Regions from separate parts of the Homo sapiens genome. Here all the other regions are reported to be linked to region 4. Evidence: microRNA targets listed by miRTarBase, many of them from high-throughput screens and not tested one by one. Region 4 holds a microRNA gene; each other region holds the end of a gene's coding sequence.
Evidence for each region. Region 4 holds the annotated microRNA hsa-miR-548ah-5p (AAAAGUGAUUGCAGUGUUUG, at 1,318-1,337, opposite strand). A microRNA usually pairs through its seed, bases 2 to 8, with sites in the 3' UTR of a target mRNA and lowers its output. Matches are read on the target gene's strand: a 7mer-m8 pairs with bases 2 to 8, a 7mer-A1 pairs with bases 2 to 7 and ends in A, and an 8mer does both.

Region 1: miRTarBase lists TFAM as a target of hsa-miR-548ah-5p. Seed matches in the 3' UTR shown: 7mer-A1 at 1,989-1,995.
Region 2: miRTarBase lists PVR as a target of hsa-miR-548ah-5p. Seed matches in the 3' UTR shown: 7mer-A1 at 84-90 and 7mer-m8 at 28-34.
Region 3: the mRNA of YTHDF3 is a reported target of hsa-miR-548ah-5p. Seed matches in the 3' UTR shown: 7mer-A1 at 2,592-2,598.

The regions. Positions count from the first base shown.
Region 1 is chr10:58,394,712-58,397,711 of GRCh38, forward strand. TFAM (transcription factor A, mitochondrial) reads left to right here. Exons shown (of 7, transcript NM_003201.3): 7 at 217-3,000. The coding sequence ends at 363. Among named protein-coding and RNA genes, the nearest start is that of TFAM, 11 kb to the left of the region's middle.
Region 2 is chr19:44,661,272-44,664,271 of GRCh38, reverse strand. It overlaps PVR (PVR cell adhesion molecule), which reads right to left. Exons shown (of 8, transcript NM_006505.5): 7 at 2,949-2,980; 8 at 1-2,532. The coding sequence ends at 2,461. Among named protein-coding and RNA genes, the nearest start is that of CEACAM19, 8.7 kb to the left of the region's middle.
Region 3 is chr8:63,209,420-63,212,419 of GRCh38, reverse strand. It overlaps YTHDF3 (YTH N6-methyladenosine RNA binding protein F3), which reads right to left. Exons shown (of 5, transcript NM_152758.6): 5 at 1-2,737. The coding sequence ends at 2,714. Among named protein-coding and RNA genes, the nearest start is that of YTHDF3, 42 kb to the right of the region's middle.
Region 4 is chr4:76,573,898-76,576,897 of GRCh38, reverse strand. It overlaps MIR548AH (microRNA 548ah), which reads right to left and starts at 1,347; the gene lies at 1,272-1,347. All of the region lies in intron 2 of SHROOM3 (shroom family member 3), which reads right to left.

The DNA.
Region 1 (3,000 bases), not on the chromosome of region 4:
TTCATTCAAAGAGATAACAGTCTATCTCTTACATTTTCATCATCTAACTTTTATCTCATGAAAATATTTCTTCTCCAGTCTGCCTTTATACATGTAGAATGGTAATGTAATTTCTAAAGTATATACAGAAGCATTCCAGAAATTAATTGCTATTTTAAATAATCATTTTATCTCAAAAAATAAGTAAATCATTTTAACAGTTATGCTTTTTCTCAGTTATATATTCAGCATGCTAAAGAGGACGAAACTCGTTATCATAATGAAATGAAGTCTTGGGAAGAACAAATGATTGAAGTTGGACGAAAGGATCTTCTACGTCGCACAATAAAGAAACAACGAAAATATGGTGCTGAGGAGTGTTAAAAGTAGAAGATTGAGATGTGTTCACAATGGATAGGCACAGGAAACCAGTTAGGTCTCAATACCTGAAGCTATCGTAAAATTAAGAAAGGATAAAGTTGGTAAACCTTTTATATTTAGTATCTTTTTATTCAGCTCATGGACTTCTGCCAGCATAATACTTGCTTTGGAAAACCCAGATAAAGGTTCATGCAAACTTTATTTTGTGTTTAGGAACTACTGAGGATCAGAGTAATCCAAGCAAATGTGAATCATTTTACCTTTGACAAAGGTAAATCAGACTATGAAGTTTTTTTTATACAGGATGATGACTATGGAAAGAGTACTCTTGTTTCCTTATATTATGGAGGCAGGAGTTTCGTTTTCAAAATTGTTACAAATTGTAGAAGCCACGGTGTTCTGTGATATAAGTGTGTGTTTTTCATAAAGCAGGCAGAACTCATCTAGGTAAATTACAGTTCCTAGGTATAATTCACATTGTATTCAGAGTTGATGGTTGTACATATAAGTGATTGCTGGTTTTAGTTGCAACTTTGTATAAAAGGGACTGAGAAATTTATAAACTTTTTTCTTACTGTCTTTTTTCTAAAGTAAAAACAAAGAAATTATGTGCCAGATTTATGCATATTATTTTATGTTGCATAGAATAAAATTTTTAATCTTTAATTTTACATTTCCTAAATATATTTTAAGACGAAACATTTGTTCTATAGCTTTTCCCTTTTTTTAAGTAAGGAATTTTATTTTTTTCTGAATTATTTTCTCTCGTGAGTATATTGATCCAGAAAGAAAACTTGTATTATGTGTGTTTTAAAATGAGAAATCTAAAAAACGAAAAGTCTCCAAAGTCTCTGGAATTTGAAACACTTTGCATAACGTATAAAAGCCTGTTTAAGAGACAGCCAACTATGGCCTGTGGATCAAATCCAGCCTGCTGCCTGCTTTTTATGGCCTGTGAGCTAGGAATTGTGTTTATAATTTTAAATGTTTTTTTTTAAAGACTTTTATGATACTTGAAAATTAACATGAATATTTAGTGTTCATAAATAAAGTTTGTTGAAACACAACCAAGATCATTCTTTTACTTGTCTATGGCTGCTTTTCTGTGGCAGAGTAGCTGCCACAGAAACTATAGCCCACAAAGCCTGATATTTACTGTCTGTCTGTTTATGGAAAAAATTTATCAACCCATGGTCTATAGTATAGTGTGATATGACTACTGTTCCAATGTATTGAAGTGTTGGGATAGTTTTTTCAAATGTTTTCAGATGTTCTTGTTTTAGAATCATTGTCACCTTTAAGAGGAAAAAGGTCATCACTAGATAATCTAAACAAATTGTTGCTTCTCAGTGTTAGCAAGGAAAATAATCTAGTTTCAAATTACATTGCAGTATAATGAAAAAGATCCATATACTGTGGAATGATATTCTTTTAAAATTATTTGCTATGGCTTGGTAAAAATGTACTTTTTCCAGTAGCACATATCACAAGAACCTCACTGTAGTTGAAAGCCATCTTTCTTTAGTATTTGTTTATCCTTTTAGGAGAGTCAAGCAAAGGTTTTCACCACCTGTTTGAGCAGAATAATTCTCATCAGTTCACAGATATAGGATAACTCAATTTATATGCACTTTATGCGTTATGCAAAATATTTAGAAATTGTAGATTCTAGATCTCCAGAAAGACTTTGAAGACTTTGATGTCACAAAAAGATGACTTGTTATATGCTGAGCTTGACAAAGGTAGGAATGGGAGAGAAAAATAGTAGCTTATGAGGAAATATGAGGCTTTAAATATATAAAGTTGGATATTTTAAAATAACTTTTCCCTGTGGGAGCTTCTCACTCTGGGTGCAGACAGGACAGTGTTGGCCATTGGTGAAATAGATAGGATGGGTTTGAGGCCAGAGCAGTCTGGGAGTAGGGGGAAAGAGAAGGAGGTGTGCTAGTGTCTATCACAGGCTTTCTCAATTAGGTTTGCAGGAGAAAAAGCCCTAAGTCCCTGTGTCATCTAGAATGGTACTAATTATGTACAGTCCCTAGGAGAATGGAGAAAATCATAACTCAAATCATCGACTCAATTCTGTTCTCTTCAGATGAGCTCAGAGAGCACATAGGAGTGTTTGTAATGAGGGGTATGTAATGATTGAGATAGAGGAATGAGTTACATAAACATCTCGGGACAAATGCAGCATAGAAAACATCTTTGTAGTTACCCTGCGGGGAAATTTCCTCTGAGTTCTTTTAACATTAACTACCCGTATTATTTTATACTTAACATTCATATCATACCTTCCCAAATATATTGGGAAGTTCAGTGTTAAGTACGTTTCTCAAGTACTTAACAACTTAATATAGGGAGGAAAGGTGTAAACAGTGAAAAAAGAGCAAAACTATTTTATGGTAATTTTATGGTAGTATCAGCTTGTATTTGGTTCTCTGTTTCTAAAATAATGTAATTTTTAATATTTTAAATAATAGGATAACCTGGTTTCCAAGCCTTTTTTTCCCCCGACATCCAGAATACACACTGGATCCAAGCCTTTCTTAAACATCAGTACATGTGGAAGACTGGCATGCCATATACCAAATGCCATTCAGCTGTAACAGTATACACAGATTTTCTCTTATAAAGAATAAG
Region 2 (3,000 bases), not on the chromosome of region 4:
ACGCCACTGCACTCCAGCCTGGGCAACAAAGTGAGACTCTTATTTCTAAAATAAATAAATAAATAAACAAATAAATAAATAAATAAAGTGCACTATTCAATGGTTTTTTGGTATAATTAATTTTCAAAAATGGTGGTTAAAAAGAGATAACAGACAATTTGCCATTTTAGCTATTTTTGAGTGTATGATTCAGTGGCATTCATTACATTCACAGTGTTGTGTAAAACTGGATATCCATGTGCAGAAGAATGGAGCTGGACCATTACACTCCAAACACAAATTAGAATGGATCCCTCATGTCTTTTTATCTTCTAATTTTGGGACGTTTATGTACTATCTAATTAAAAAAATTAGCTTAGCATGGTGAGGGGCAGCTGTGGTCACAGCTACTTGGTAGGCTGAGGTGGGAGGATTGCTTGAGCCCCGGAGTTAGAGGCTGCAATGAGCTATGATCGTGCCATTGCACTCCAGCCTGGGTGACAGGAGACACCGTCCCTTAAACATTTTTTTTGGAGAGGAAAAAAAAAAAGACAAGCTGTTCCTAAGGTGCCTGGGAATCCCAGCCCTTATGGCCCTCTTCATTTAGCGTCTTGCTTCCATGCCTCTGGTTCCATCCCACGTGGTGACAGTACACATGAAACCTGTCTGCTCCTTGATTTCCACAAAAGACCCCATTGCACACAGCCGCTGGAGGTACAATAAATAAGCTTTAATGAGATTCTGGGTGCTGGAGACAGACAAGGAGCTTACGTGCCACCAAAGCAACCAATGTTCCTTTATCTCCCCAACTCTGTGGGGTCCCACTGGCCTCCTCACCCTTGAGCCCTTTGCCCCTGCCATCCTGCTGGTTCCTATCTCTTCCCCACACTTCTCTGTTCCCGGCTCTTCCATCTCTGTCCAGAGCAAATCCTCTGTCCTGCTTATTTTCTCTTGCAGAGCAGCTCAAGCTTTGCATTCCCATTTAGCATCTTGGCCCAAGGTCTTCTCTCCCTCAACGTATTTTCCCAAACAGTTTTCTTTATAAGAGGAATTCTGCTGTCTGCCCTCAAGATCATAGACCTTTTTAACTTGTCAGTTGCACTGAGCAGCTGGGCCTCCTGGGTCTTGGGTCGCATCCATCTTGGTCCTATAGGAGCGTGTCCTGAGCAACTGCAGCGCTGCCTCCCCCTGCATCCCTTCCCCCTTGTGTTGGAAATTGCATTTGCTTCTTTTGTGGGTTATTTCCTGCCAGTCCCAGCTTGCTGGCTGCAGATGCTGGCAGAAAGTGGCTGCAGATGCTGGCAGAAAGTGGCTGCAGCTGACAACCTTCTTCAAGTTCACATCTAGTAGTTTTCTCTGCTCCTTGGACACCCCCCAGGCAGCTGCTTGCGGCCTGAATTGCAGCCTCTGGTGACCAGGGTCAGTGGCTGTTTCTTGTAACCACAGAGATCTGACGGATACAGAGATTTAGAAGCTCAAGGCCAGAGGCCAAATTTTTACCAAAATTCTCTGGTGGCCCACACCCTTCTGTGTGGTCTGCTATGCAGTAAAGGCTTAACCTTGCCCAAAGAAAGATCGGGCCCTTTATCCTCAGCTCCTGGGCATTCATCTCTAAGCCCTTGGAATATCCTGCCTGGTAGCTGATCTTGGAGTCTTGGGCCACTCTGGGTGGTTCATGCTAATGATGTGATTTATGGTGGGGGTCTTGGGCCACACGGTATTGGCTTGATGTATGAGGTCAGCCGTGTGGATGGTGAGCTGCTTAATTCAGCACTTTGGGAGGCCAAGGCAGAAGTATCACTTGGAGCCAAGAGTTCAAGACCAGCCTGGGCAACACAGGGAAACCTCGACTTTACAAATAATAAAAAGATTAGCCAGACGTGGTGGCACATACCTGTAGTCATAGCTACTCAGGAGGCTGAGGTGGGAGGATGACTTGGCGTTGAGAAGTCAAGGCTGCAATGAACTGTGATCTCACCACTGTACTCTAGTCTGCCAACAGAGCCAGACCCTGTCTCAAGACAAACAAAAAACTCTGGACACAAAGATCTCGAGTGAGCTGCTCTGGTTGGCAGTATTGGCAGTACTTCTTGCATGTTGTCACATGTTGCTGTGAGAATCAGGTGCTGCCTATATGGCTCCACTGGGAGAGGGCAGATGGAAGCCGTCGCCTCATCTGTCGTGGAACGTGTGCTGTGCACCTCCTCCCTTTGCTGATCTTAATCTCTGTCCTTTTACTGTAATAAACTGTAACTGTGAGCCTAACAGCTTTCCTGAGTCTAGTGAGTCCTTCTAGCAAATGAAAGGAGGGTGGTCTTGGAGACCTATGAACTTGCACCTGCCCCCGTCGTTTTGAGGTCTGGCACAGGGAGGGAGGCTGGTCTCTTTGGAGGGGGTCTTCATCCATTGGGGTCGGGTCCAACTCTGGAGGCCCACGTCCTTGCCAGCTCCAGTCTCTCTCCCCTCTCAGTCCCGACGCTGTCACCTTGTGCCCTCTGTCTGTGGATCCTGGGAAGAGCTGTTCTCTCTGCTCACAGCTGAATAGGAGACATGCTAGAAGAGGGTTTTCAAATTTTAGCCTTGGGGCTCTTTTGAACAAAATCAAACATCTTCCCACTGAAGCCCCATGTGCAAAGAACTGCAGGCCCGTCCCCTCCTCTCTCCCTGGAAGCCAGGGCAGTGCTTCTCAAGGTGTGGCCATGGGTGGAATTGAAGGGGCGTGGGGCAGGGGGGAGAGAGCGGATATTAAAATGCAGATTCCCTGGCCCCATCACAGACCAGACTGTCTGGGGCTGCGTCTTAGCAAACTCTACAGGGGATTCCGCCCAGCAGGAAGGGTTGGGAAATGCTGCTCGAGGCACCAGGAGAAAAGACCCAGGCTCCTGAGGCCGGGCCGTGGGCATCTGAAGACGTCTGGTCTGTAGTTCGTGCAGACCCCACACCCTCCTTAGCTCCAACACTGCACTTACCCCATTAGCTGAGGCGCTGGCATGCTCTGTACCTGGGGAAATAGGAGGGGAA
Region 3 (3,000 bases), not on the chromosome of region 4:
CATCAGCTTAACCCCCATGCACGGTATTCAAAAAGAACACAGCTTTCGAATTAGAAAGATCACTTAAATTAAAAAGAGAAATTAAGTACTAAAATTAGGAAAACGCTGGATTTCTTTTGAAAGGAATCTTCAAGTACCAATACGTATAGAGAAATACTAATTTTGGTTACAGTTTCCTCCTTACTGTTAAATATACAAACTATAATACCTTTCAAAATAAAATACCCACATAAGATAGCTTTAATAAGAAATATTCAAGCCAGAACTTGGAAAAACATTAAGCAAGAAATTTACTGGGCTGATAATGTCTTAATTTGTGATCATTCAAACATTTGATGATGTGTCTCCTCTTGTAGACCCCAGGCTCTCTCCCTTTTGGTCCCCACAGTTAAGAGACATTCAGTTGGTTGTGCTTGAGACAACCTGTGATAATTTCATTCAGAGGAAAAATATTTTGCAATATAATGACAGACCAAGAAGGAAGAGAAGGTGGGTGCTCTGGAGAAAACTTATATGAGAAAAACACAAAATTATCACTTGAAAATAAAAAGATTTTTTTTTCCAAAGGAATGCTGCACCCATTTCACTTAAGATTAGAAATCCAGGTTAAAGGCACTGGGATGTACTCCTCACCATGAATAGACTCTCAATTACATTTATTCGCATGTCTGAGTCTATTGCAATCAGCCTGCTTGCTGAGTGCTTCCATGACACTCTTACATAAAAACCTAATGTAAATTAAACATGTTTGAAACCGTTTATAATGTAACTAGTTTTATAAAAATATCCAGAGTTGCTAATAAAGCACCAAGAAAAAGAGAACCTCAGGGGGAGGACTCAGATCCTTCCTACAAGGTCACCCTTTTATAATATTCTCTAATAGGACCTCCAGAATGACAACAGTCATCTTTGACATGTCCTACCTAGATAATCTTAGGGATGTAGAACATTGCTGTGGTGACTATACCCAAATGCCACTTTTCATTATAAATAGTTAAGAGACATGTTACAAGATTTCATGGCTTACTCTTAAAAAGGTAAAATAGGTGCAATTTTCCTTTAAGAAAGTCTTTATTTTATAATATACCATTAATATTTTGATGTTCCCTTCAGTAAACACTGATATAACTACACTGGGACTACCGAAGAACTGTGTAGTAGCTATGGTTATCTACAAATACTGTATTTTTTTCACTTGAATACAGTATTTGCACATTTAAAAAAAACATTGTACAAAATAAAATTATATAAATGAAAGCCTCAAAGAAATATCCATCACTAGGTCTTTGAGCTGAAGTGACCAAAGACCACAGTAAATGAAAACATTTCTAAACATGATGTAAACATAAATGAAGTAATGCAAAACATCAAGGTATTCAAATCTACTGTATTGCTATTTTCACCCTTAATGTATCTTTCTACATAGCTTTCTCCTTTTGGAACAGTAATACATGGGGCAGTACATTATTTTCATAACCTTATGCCATCAAATCAATTAATACAGATGCTTGACACATTTAATTATACAAAATCAATTTGCTTCAAGATACAAAATTAATGTTGATATGTAATTAATGAAAAAAATAAGATGTTAAAAAGATAACTATAAGAATATCCAGATATATGCTGTATTCCCACTTATATAGATCTGATCAATAAAACATCAACACATTCACTTAGATACTGATTTAATCCATGGATCAAGGCCATATTTTCAAAGTATTTTAAGGATGCCAGGACACTGCAAAAGCTGGAGAAAAGAGCTGAGGAACAACATATGCTTGCTAAACAAGAACTATGTTTATTTAGCTAGTGAATACCTAGAGTAATAAATTTTTACTTCATGATAGCAATCAGGCTCGCAAACACCCAGAAATAGGAATTAAGGGTTTTAAATGTAGTTATAAAGGTCATAAAAAGTCTGATTAGACTGAGGTACATTTACTCAAAATTTTGAGATTCATTAAGTGGTAGCAAACAAAATAATTCCTCAGACAAATGCACATTTTTCAGTATACATATTAATGGGGGGAGGAGGGAAGAAGAATGTGCATTAACTGGTGAAATCCACCAAGCTGCATATCAATATTCTGTTACACCAAACAGTTTGAAGACAAGGGAAATGTTCTAATATAATTTCAGATTATGTTTCATTTGGCTAAAATAGAGCTTAAGGTTGCTTTGCCATATTAAAAGTTTACTACAATAATTTTTCACATCAACATTTAGACTTGAACTCCAGGACTAAATATGGCATGATTATTTTGCTTTTAATCTGTCAAATAGCTAAAAATCGACAATTTAAAAACTACAACAAAGAAAAAGTTGAAGCAGTGTGACTCTTACATCATTGAACCACTTCTAATGGTTAACTGTTAGTATTTAACAAATTCAAAGAGTTAATGAATCCTTGCATTCATTCAGTCTTCTGTGCCTTAGCTAGGATGCATAATTACAAAAGACAGCAGATACTGGTAAAAGCTTCAGGACAGAAAGTGCTTGACGAAGTTACAGTTCTCAAGTGTGTTTGGTGAAGAGTATAAGGGCAGATGCGCTGATGAAAACCATTACGAGAAGAGTCAACTTTGTGTTAAAGTGTTCAAAGATGTCACCTTAAGCAGAAAAGAGCTTTAATACGTCTTCTTTGACTTATTAGGCATTTCCAGAGTCTACATCGTTAGTGTTGTAAATTTAACAGGACATCTTCATACGGTTATTGTTTGTTTCTATTTCTCTCCTGAAAAAAAAAAAACACACACACACAAAAAGAATTACAATGAAAAACTCTCATTATTTAAAGATTTAAACTATATGCACATATAATGTAAATCATCTCCATATAAAGTTCAAGTACTAATTCAAGTAATTAAAAACAATTGATAATTACCTCTATATACCATAGTGAGATTATTACCACAAAACATTTTACATAAAGAACTCTCAAACACAAAGACCTATTTCAGGAGAGTATAGATCCTCTCCACATCCCTATTGTTTGTT
Region 4 (3,000 bases):
AGTCCTTTATTTTTATTTTTAAAAATTTAATTTAAAAATTAAAAATATTTATAACAAAATTTACCATCTTACCCATTTTTTATTTTAACATTTTAATTTTTAATTTTTGTGGTTATAAAGTAGGTGTATACATTTATGGGGTACGTGAGATGTTTTGATACAGGCATGCAACACATAATAATCACATCATGAAGAATGGGGTATCCATCTCCTCAAGCCATTATCTTTTGTGTTACAAACTACCCAACTACACGATTTTAGTTATTTTTAAATGTACAATTACATTATTATGGATTATAGTCACCTTGTTGTGCTATCAAAGAGTAGGTATTAGTCATCCTACCTTTTTGTATGCATTAACCATCCCTACCTCCCCACCAGCCTCCTACTACCCTTCCCAGCCTCTGTAACCATCCTTCTACTCTCTGTGTCCATGAGTTCCATTGTTTTGATTTTTAGATCCCACAAACAAGTGAGAATATGCAAAGTTTGTCTTTCTGTGCCTGGCTCAATTCACTTAACATAGTGATCTCCAGTTTGATCTATGTTGTTGCAAATGGCAGGATCTCATTTTTTTAAATGGCTGAATAATATTCCATTGTGTGTAAGTACCACATTTTCTTTATCCATTCATCTGTTGATGGACACTTAAGTTGCTTCCAAATCTTAGCTATTGTAAAGAATGTTGCAACAAACACAGGAGTCCAGATACCTCTTAGAGGTACTGATTTCCTTTCTTTGGGGTATATACCCCATAGTGGGATTGCTGGATCGTATGGTAGCTTTCTTTTTAGGTTTTTGAGAAACCTTGAACTGTTCTCCGTAGTGGTTGTACTAATTTGCATTCCTACCAACACTGTACGAGGGTTCCCTTTTCTCCACATCCTCACTAGGATTTGTTACTGCCTGTCTTTTGGATATAAGCCATTTTAACGGGGGTGGGATGATATAATATCTCATTGTAGTTTAGATTTGCGTTTCTCTAATAATCAATGATGTTGAGCACATTTTCATATATCTGTTTGCCATTTATATGTCTTCTTTTGAGAAGTTTAACAATATTGATTCTTGCAATTTGTGAACATGGAATATCTTTCCATTTTTTGTATCTTCTTCAACTCCTTTCATCAGTGTATTATATTAATAGTTTTTATTATAGAGATCTTTCACTTATTTGGTTAATTCCTGGGTATTTAATTTTATTTGTGGCTATTGTAAATGGGATTACTTTTTAAATTTCTTGTTCAGATTGTTCACTGTTGGCATATATTGGGCTGGTGCAAAAGTAACTGCAGTTTTTGTCATTACTTTTATTGGCAAACACTGCAATCACTTTTGCACCAACCTAATAGAAATGCTGCTGATTTTGGTATGTTGATTTTGTATCCTGTGACTTGACTGAATTTGTTTATCAATTCTGCTAGTTTTTTTGGTGGAGTCTTTAGGTTTTTCCAAATATAAGATCATCTTATCTGCAAATAAAAATAATTTGCTTTCTTCCTTTTCAGTTTGGATGCCTTTTCTTTCTCTTGTCTAATTGCTCTAGCTAGGACTTCCAGTACTATGTTGAATACCAGTAGTGAAAGTGGGTAGCCTTGTTGTGCTTCAGATCTTAGAGGAAAGGCTTTCAATTTTTTTCCCATTCAGTGTGATACTAGTTGTGGGTCTGTCATCTATGGCTTTTATTATGTTGAAGTATGTTTCTCCTATACCCAGTTTTTTGAAGGACTTTTATCATGAAGGGATGTTTATCATGAAAGGATCAAATGCTTTTTCAGCTTCACTTGAAATGATCATCTGGTTTTGTTCTTCATTCTATTGAGAAGATATATAGTATTGATTGATTTATATATGTTGAGCCATCCTTGCATCCCAGAGATAAATCCCGCTTGGTTGTGATGAATGATCTTGTTGGTGTACTATTGAATTTGGTTTGCTGGTATACCCGTTTTTTAAGGGTGCACTTCAGTGGCATTAAGTATATTCCCATTTTTGTAGATCCAATGTCCAGAACTCTTTTCATCTCGCAGAACTGAAACTCTGTACCTACTCAACAAAACTCCCTAATCTCCCCTCCCCCAACCTGTGGCAACTGCCATTCTACATTTTTTGTGTATGAATTTGACTACCCTGGGTACCTTATACAAGTGGAATCATTTACAGTATTTGTCTTTTTGTGACTGGCTTATTTCACTTAGCATAATGTCCTTAGGGTTCATCCATGTTGTAGCATATATCAGAATTTCCTTTGCTTTTAAGGCTATACATTTCTTTTTTTAATCACAAAATGATTTGAGTTTATGTAGCTAATCAATCAATTAGATTAAGAGGGAGTATCCGGTCTGTCTAATAAGAGTTTAGGCATGAAAAATGGTAAGAAAGGCGTTGGTAGAGAGGGAGAGAGAGAATTTGCTGAAATATTTAATGCCATGGTTCTTTAGGGTGCATCAGAATCATGGGGAAGACTTGGTAAATCAGATTGCTAGGCTCAAACTCCAGAGTTCCCAATTCATTAGGCTTAGAGCAGGGCCTGGGAATTTGTATTTTCCAGAAGTTCCTGGGCATGATCACACTTTTGACAACCATTGTAACCTATCCAGGGTGAGGCCTAGAGGATTCTAATTGCCAAAATTTTCCCATCGTGCAAAGAAGATACCCCTCCCAACTAAGACAAGAAGCTTGAAGTTATAGAAGTAGGGAAGCACAGAGAAGAGTGAGAAATAGTGAGAAAACCCAGCCCTCAAGATCCCAGCAACTTGTGGAAATGAGGGAAAAGATGGTGGCAAGTCAAGCTGTGAGGACCAAGTTCTGATTTCTCTTCTAGCCTCAGGGAGGAGAGGGAAAGTGTGTGAGCTAAGTGAGGAGAATGTCAAAGGGCTCAGGGAACCCTGGCTCCACTGCACCATTTGAGACCCTAGGAGAAGGTCACTGGAGTAGGTCTGGCCTGGCTCAATTTCGAGGTCTCTAGAGGTCCAGACAGAAGGAAGAATCTCAGACATC